Linked DNA regions of Homo sapiens: region 2 is linked to region 1. The links come from fine-mapping of genetic effects on gene expression. A gene starts in region 1. The other region holds a variant in brackets. All regions are shown on one strand. Distances are from middle to middle. Region 1 holds the start of BRCC3 (BRCA1/BRCA2-containing complex subunit 3). Region 2 overlaps BRCC3 (BRCA1/BRCA2-containing complex subunit 3).

Region 1 (2,872 bases):
AATAAGAACAGCCGTTCCTGCTCCATGAGGACGGGGCATACTAGCCACAAACAGTAACTGAAAATAACATATGATATAAAATTGAAACAAGAGAAAATTTAGACAGGTCCAATGTAACTGCACACGAAAATTTTCCAACCTTCATCATGATCAAATTAATTATAGAAAGATGTGCCATGTGATCCTTACAGATCGTTAGGTAAAAACGGAGGCTGCTGGCGTGCACATTACAGATCGTTGCACTGGATGGGGACCCTATGTGTGGGGAGACTTGGGTTGGAACTGACTTGGGAGAAAAGAGCAAAGCATCAACACTTCAAGTAGCACCTTGGGAATGTTCCCTTTCCAGTACTGCCATACCTGCCTGGCTTCAAAACTACACAAAGTAGAAAACCAAATCAAAGACACGAACACGGACGGGCTGTGGAGGCGGCACGGCATATATTGTGCTTTGATTTAGAATCGCTTTCAAAATCCACGTGTGATTCCTAGACTTGTGAGTTGGAAGATCTGTACTTTTATCCTTGGCACGTTTGACATACCTCGAAATAAAAATTACTTTTACATATATTTTTACTGTCTGATATCATCGAGACAAGGAGACCCGAGGAAACTTGCATTCTGGATACCTAATGTGATACATCCGAACTTGAATAAAAACTGAAGTTCTCCATTTCCCCTTCCCTGTATCCAACAAATAGCTACCTAAAAGCCTTTGTAGAAAGTAGCAGCAGCCAAGCTTAAGAGTGATACTTTTTCAGATACAGTATAACACTGTTTCTGCAAAAGGTTACTCACATGAATATAATGTTTCTTGGGCTAATTAATCCGCCTTGAGAACAGCTAGGCTAAAACTTCCAGGTCTCCCACCCTGGGCCACTCAAGCCAGGATCGCGACGTGAGCCCGGGGTGAGCCGAGGGGCATCCCGGGCCGAGGTCACTCGAACCGAAGTTATGAGGCGCGGGCCGGCAACCGGAAGTGGTCCAGGGAGAGTTGTACGAGATTCGGGGGCTGTGACTTGGAAATAAAACAAAATAAAATAAAACCTTAACTGTTTTGGGACTGACTTTCAAAAGAGCGTCCCCCTGGCTCAAGAGGCCGGCGTTCGCGGAGATGTCGTCTTAAAGGGCTGTCCCCCAAGCGTGTAGGCCGCGCACGGGTCTCCTTAGCGGGCGGGCAAAATGGGCGCCGGTACTCGGGAGGCGCCTGCCCAGGCGCCCGGGCGCCGCTCACAGAGTACGTCCGCCTGCGGCCCCAGAGCGCCGCCTCCCTGCCGCCCCCGCCGCCCGGCCTGACGCCCGGACCGCGGCCGGCCACCGCCCTCCGCCCCGACGGCCACGCCTGCCCCAAACCGCGCGGGCGTTTCCCAGGTGCTGCTGGGCGGGCCCCGCCCCCGTGCCCCAAGGCCCGCCCCCGCGCGCCAGCCGCGCGCCCGCTGCCCCCTCCTCGCCCCCACAGCCCCGCCCCCACAGCCCCGCCCGCTCCCTAAGCCCCGCCCCCTAGGAACCCGCGCGCCGAAGGCCAGGCCTGGGCGGAGCGCACAGCGCTGGGCGCTGGGGAGGCTGCGCCGCAGCACCCGGTTGGTCAGGACCAAGTGGGCCCGAGGCGGACGTGAGAAGGGTCGGGCCAAGATGGCGGTGCAGGTGGTGCAGGCGGTGCAGGCGGTTCATCTCGAGTCTGACGCTTTCCTCGTTTGTCTCAACCACGCTCTGAGCACAGAGAAGGAGGAAGTAATGGGGCTGTGCATAGGGGAGGTGAGTAGGTCTGTTAGCCTGGATGGAACCCTGCTGAGCAGTCCCAGTGTGTCCCCGGGGTGGGTGCCGGCAGCTCCCAGGGCTGCGGAGGCCACAGGCATCCTCGATTTAGGTCCTTGGACACCCTTTACATAGCTCTGTCGCGGGGAGCCCCGTTTCTTCTGGCCGCCTGACACTTGTTTAGTCTCCTGCGAGCCCCCGGCGGTCTGTACAGGCCCCGGGAGCCTTGCCCTTTCTCCTGTAGCCTGGGGCTTCTCTTTAGATCTGCGCTTTTCGCCCGGTTGACCAAAACTGCAAGGCAGGTCAGAAAGACACTGGAGTATAATGAGGATGTCCGGGTATTACGACGCAGCAGCTGACCACAGTTAGAGCCCCTTGCCTCGCCTCGAGTCTTCTGTCTAGGGAGCAGAGATATCAACCAAAGCATTTGAAGGGTATCGAAGAGCCTAACAGAAGGTGCGGGGCTTGAAGGAAGCAAAAGTTTCCGCTGCATTGTGTTGAGGAGGGGCCGAAGAGGATGAGGAAATACAGTTTAGCTGTTTACAGTCTAAAGTAATTCTCCAGTCTTTCATACCATGTGCGTGAACACATGACCTAATTGTCATATAATCTGCATCCATATATGTCAAACAAACGTAATGTGATCAATAATGTTTTTTGCTTTTTCCCACTCTAGTTGAACGATGATACAAGGTAAGACTGTATTTGTTTACTCATATCTTATAATCTCTAAGTCATTGTTAACCTAAAATTATGGCGACTTTGGCAGTATTGTGTCCGGATCGTGTCTTAAATTAATTACCATTATCACTCCGGGGCTCCCTTAATGATACAACCTTGAACTTTGGTTTCTGCCTTACCTCCTATTCAGTTGAGATATGGGATAAACATCTTAATAAGCATTATCATAATTGTTGCGTTTTAGGGGTGAGACAGAGCCTCACTCTGTCGCCCAGGCTGGAGTGCAGTGGCGCGATCTCTGCTCACTGCAACCTCCGCCTCCCAGGTTCAAGCGATTCTCATACTTCAGACTCCCGAATAGCTGAGATTACAGGTGCCCGCCACCACACCCGGCTGTCTTTTTTTTTTGTACAGACGGGGTTTCACCATGTTGGCC
Region 2 (2,914 bases), 52 kb after region 1:
TTGAAAAAAGCCACAGGAGAAAAATCTTCAGGATCTTGGGCTAGGTGACAAGTTCTTGGACTTTGCCCCGAAAGCACATCCATAAAAGACAAAATCTGATATATTGGACTTCTTCAAAATTTAAAAACTTGTGATTTAAGAAGAGGAAAAGATAAGCTACAGATTGAGATGAATTTGCAAACCATATATCTGATCAATTTGGAATATATAAAGTGTACTAAAAACTCAACTGAAGTCAGGCATGGTAGCTCATGCTTGTAATCTCACCACTTTGGGAGGCCAAGATGGGAGGAGTGCTTGAGGTTAGGCGTTCCAGACCAGCCTGGGCAACATAGTGAGACTCTTGTCTCTACAAAAAGTTTTTTTAAAAAATTAACTGGGCACCATGACACACACCAGTAGTCCCAGCTACTAGGGAGGCAGGAGGATCACTTGAGCCCAGGAGTTTGAGGCTGCGGTGAGCTGTGATCACACCACCACACTCCAACCTGTGTAACAGAGTGAGGCCTCATCTCAAAAAAAAAAAAAGGCCACAAAACTCAACAATAAAAACAAACAGTCCAATTAGAAAATGGGCAAAAGACATGAATAGATGTTTCACTGAAGAGGATCTATAGATGGCAAGTAAGCATATGAAAAGCTGTTAAACTCCATAAGTCATCAGGGAATGCAAATTGAAACCACAGCGAGGCTATGACTTACTTATCTCAATGGCTAAAGAAAAAATAGTGAAAATACCAAATACTGATGAGGATACAAACTGGATATTTTATACATTGCTGACAGGAATGTAAAATGGTACAGCCACTCTGGGAAAGAGTTTATGAATTTCTTATCAAGTTAAACATAATTTTTTAATCAAGTTAAACATAAGACCCAGCAGTTGTGCTCCTGGACATTCATTCCAGAGAAATGAAAACCTATATTGTACTTGTACTCAAATATTCATAGGAGCTTTATTTGTAATAGCCCCAAACTGGAAACAACCCAGATGTCCTACAACAGGTACATGGTTAAACAAACCATCCATAACTTGGAATACTGCTCTGGAATGAAAAGGAACTAACTGTTGATACAAGAACTTGGTTGTACCTCAGGGGTATTATGGTGAACAAAAAAAAAACCAGTCTCAAATGGTCACATACTGTATGATCGCATTTATATAACATTCTTGAGGTGACAAAATTATTGAAATGAAGAACAGATTAATGGTTGCCAGGGATAGGGACTGGAGGGGGTGTGGGGTATGTATGACTATAAAGGGATGACGCAAGGAGTTCCTTTGTGCTGATGGAACAGTTCTATATGATTATGATGATTACGATGTTGATTATAACATTTGATTATGAGGTTAAGCACATGAGTCTTTACCTGTGCTGAAGTTGTATGGACCTACATACACACAAATGAATGCATGTAAAATCTGGTGATACTGAATAAAGTCTGT[G/A]GTCTAGATAGCAGTATAATATTATTGTCAATGTCTTGGATGTGAAGTTGTGCTATAGTTACAAAACCGTACCACTGGAGGAAACTGGGTAATGGATACATGGGACTCTGTACTATTTTTGCAACTTCCTATAAGTATATAATTATTGCAAAATGAAAAGTTGTAAGTTTTAAGTAAGGAACTGGGACGTATGGTACCTATTTTATGAAATAAGAAAAGGGTGCTAGAAAATTTGAGGGGAATAAAACGATTGGAATATTTTTACATGCCAACCTTTAGCACAAGTCCTTTTCCCTTTCTGGGTTTCATTTTCTTTAGGTATAGAATGAGATTAGAGTAGTTGACCACCAAGGTTTCTTTTAGCTCAGTGTCCAGTCTTTAAAAGTGTTGAGCATCACAAGAAACAGTGGTGTGAACAGGATGTATCATTATTTTCCCAGCTGCACCAATCTGGCTTACCTTTACACAACCCTGTATCCCCTTATGAACACTAGATTCTCTATTCTCAATCACATCCAAGACTCTCATGGTAACTGTATATACTTGTTCTCTCTGTTTTCTTATCTCCTATAATTTCAACTCATTGCCTTGTGACCTCTGTCCACAGCACTTCATTGAAACTACTCCTGCCAAAGTCACCAATGAGCTCCATACAGTGAAAGTCAATAGTTGCTTTTCCCATCCTTGATGAACCTCTCAGTATTGACACAGTTGGTCACTCCTCCTTGAAATCTACTTCCTTGGTTTCTCTTATTTTCTTCTCTGGCTATCCTTCCTGCTATCCTTTTCTTCTCTAGCTGTTCCTTCTCAAATTCATTCATAGACTTCTCTATCTTTGCATACCTATATGCAGTTGACACACAAATCTGTATCTGTCCACGCCTCTATCTGAACTCCAGACCTACATTTCCACCTCTCTACTGGACATTTTTTTTGAGACAGGGTCTCACTCTGTTGCCCAGGCTGGGGCGCAGTGGCATGATCATGGCTCACTGAAGCCTCGACCTCCTGACCTCAGCCTCCCAAGTAGCTGGGACTACAGGCACGCACCACCATGCCTGGCTCATTTTTTTGTATTTTTTTTGAAGAGGCAGGGTTCCACCATGTTGCCCAGGCTGGTGGCAAACTACTGGGCTCAAGCAATCCACCTGCCTCGGCCTCCCAAAGTGCTAGGATTACAGGCACGAGCCACCGTGCCTGGCCTCCACTTGGCTGTCTTAATGGCACATAAAAATTAATATATCTAAATCTGAAATCATGGTTTTCAATCTAAACTATATTCCCTTCCAACATTTCTTACCTCAGTGAATAGTGAATGTAACATCCATTTGCACAAACCAGAAACCAAATAGACATTCTTAACATCTCTCTCCATCACCTTCTAAACTATTTATATTGATAAAGTTACAGCGATTTGAAATTCTTTTTCTAGCCTAGTAATCTGAGTAATTTGTAGGATAAACATGT

What was found. PIP is the estimated chance that this variant, and not a neighbour inherited with it, causes the effect.
Region 2: its variant is fine-mapped to the expression of BRCC3 in whole blood (TOPMed, PIP 0.94).

The regions. Positions count from the first base shown.
Region 1 is chrX:155,069,896-155,072,767 of GRCh38, forward strand. It overlaps BRCC3 (BRCA1/BRCA2-containing complex subunit 3), which reads left to right and starts at 1,613. Exons shown (of 11, transcript NM_001018055.3): 1 at 1,613-1,755; 2 at 2,432-2,448. The coding sequence starts at 1,633. It overlaps CMC4 (C-X9-C motif containing 4), which reads right to left and starts at 1,241. Exons shown (of 3, transcript NM_001018024.3): 1 at 799-1,241. It overlaps MTCP1 (mature T cell proliferation 1), which reads right to left and starts at 1,241. Exons shown (of 5, transcript NM_001018025.4): 1 at 799-1,241. RefSeq lists enhancers at 869-1,168, 1,153-1,874, 1,639-1,858, 1,869-1,918, 1,875-2,596 and a silencer at 1,209-1,528.
Region 2 is chrX:155,121,612-155,124,525 of GRCh38, forward strand. BRCC3 (BRCA1/BRCA2-containing complex subunit 3) reads left to right here. Exons shown (of 11, transcript NM_001018055.3): 11 at 1-1,466. Among named protein-coding and RNA genes, the nearest start is that of BRCC3, 52 kb to the left of the region's middle. The variant G/A (reference allele first, on the strand shown) is at 1,448.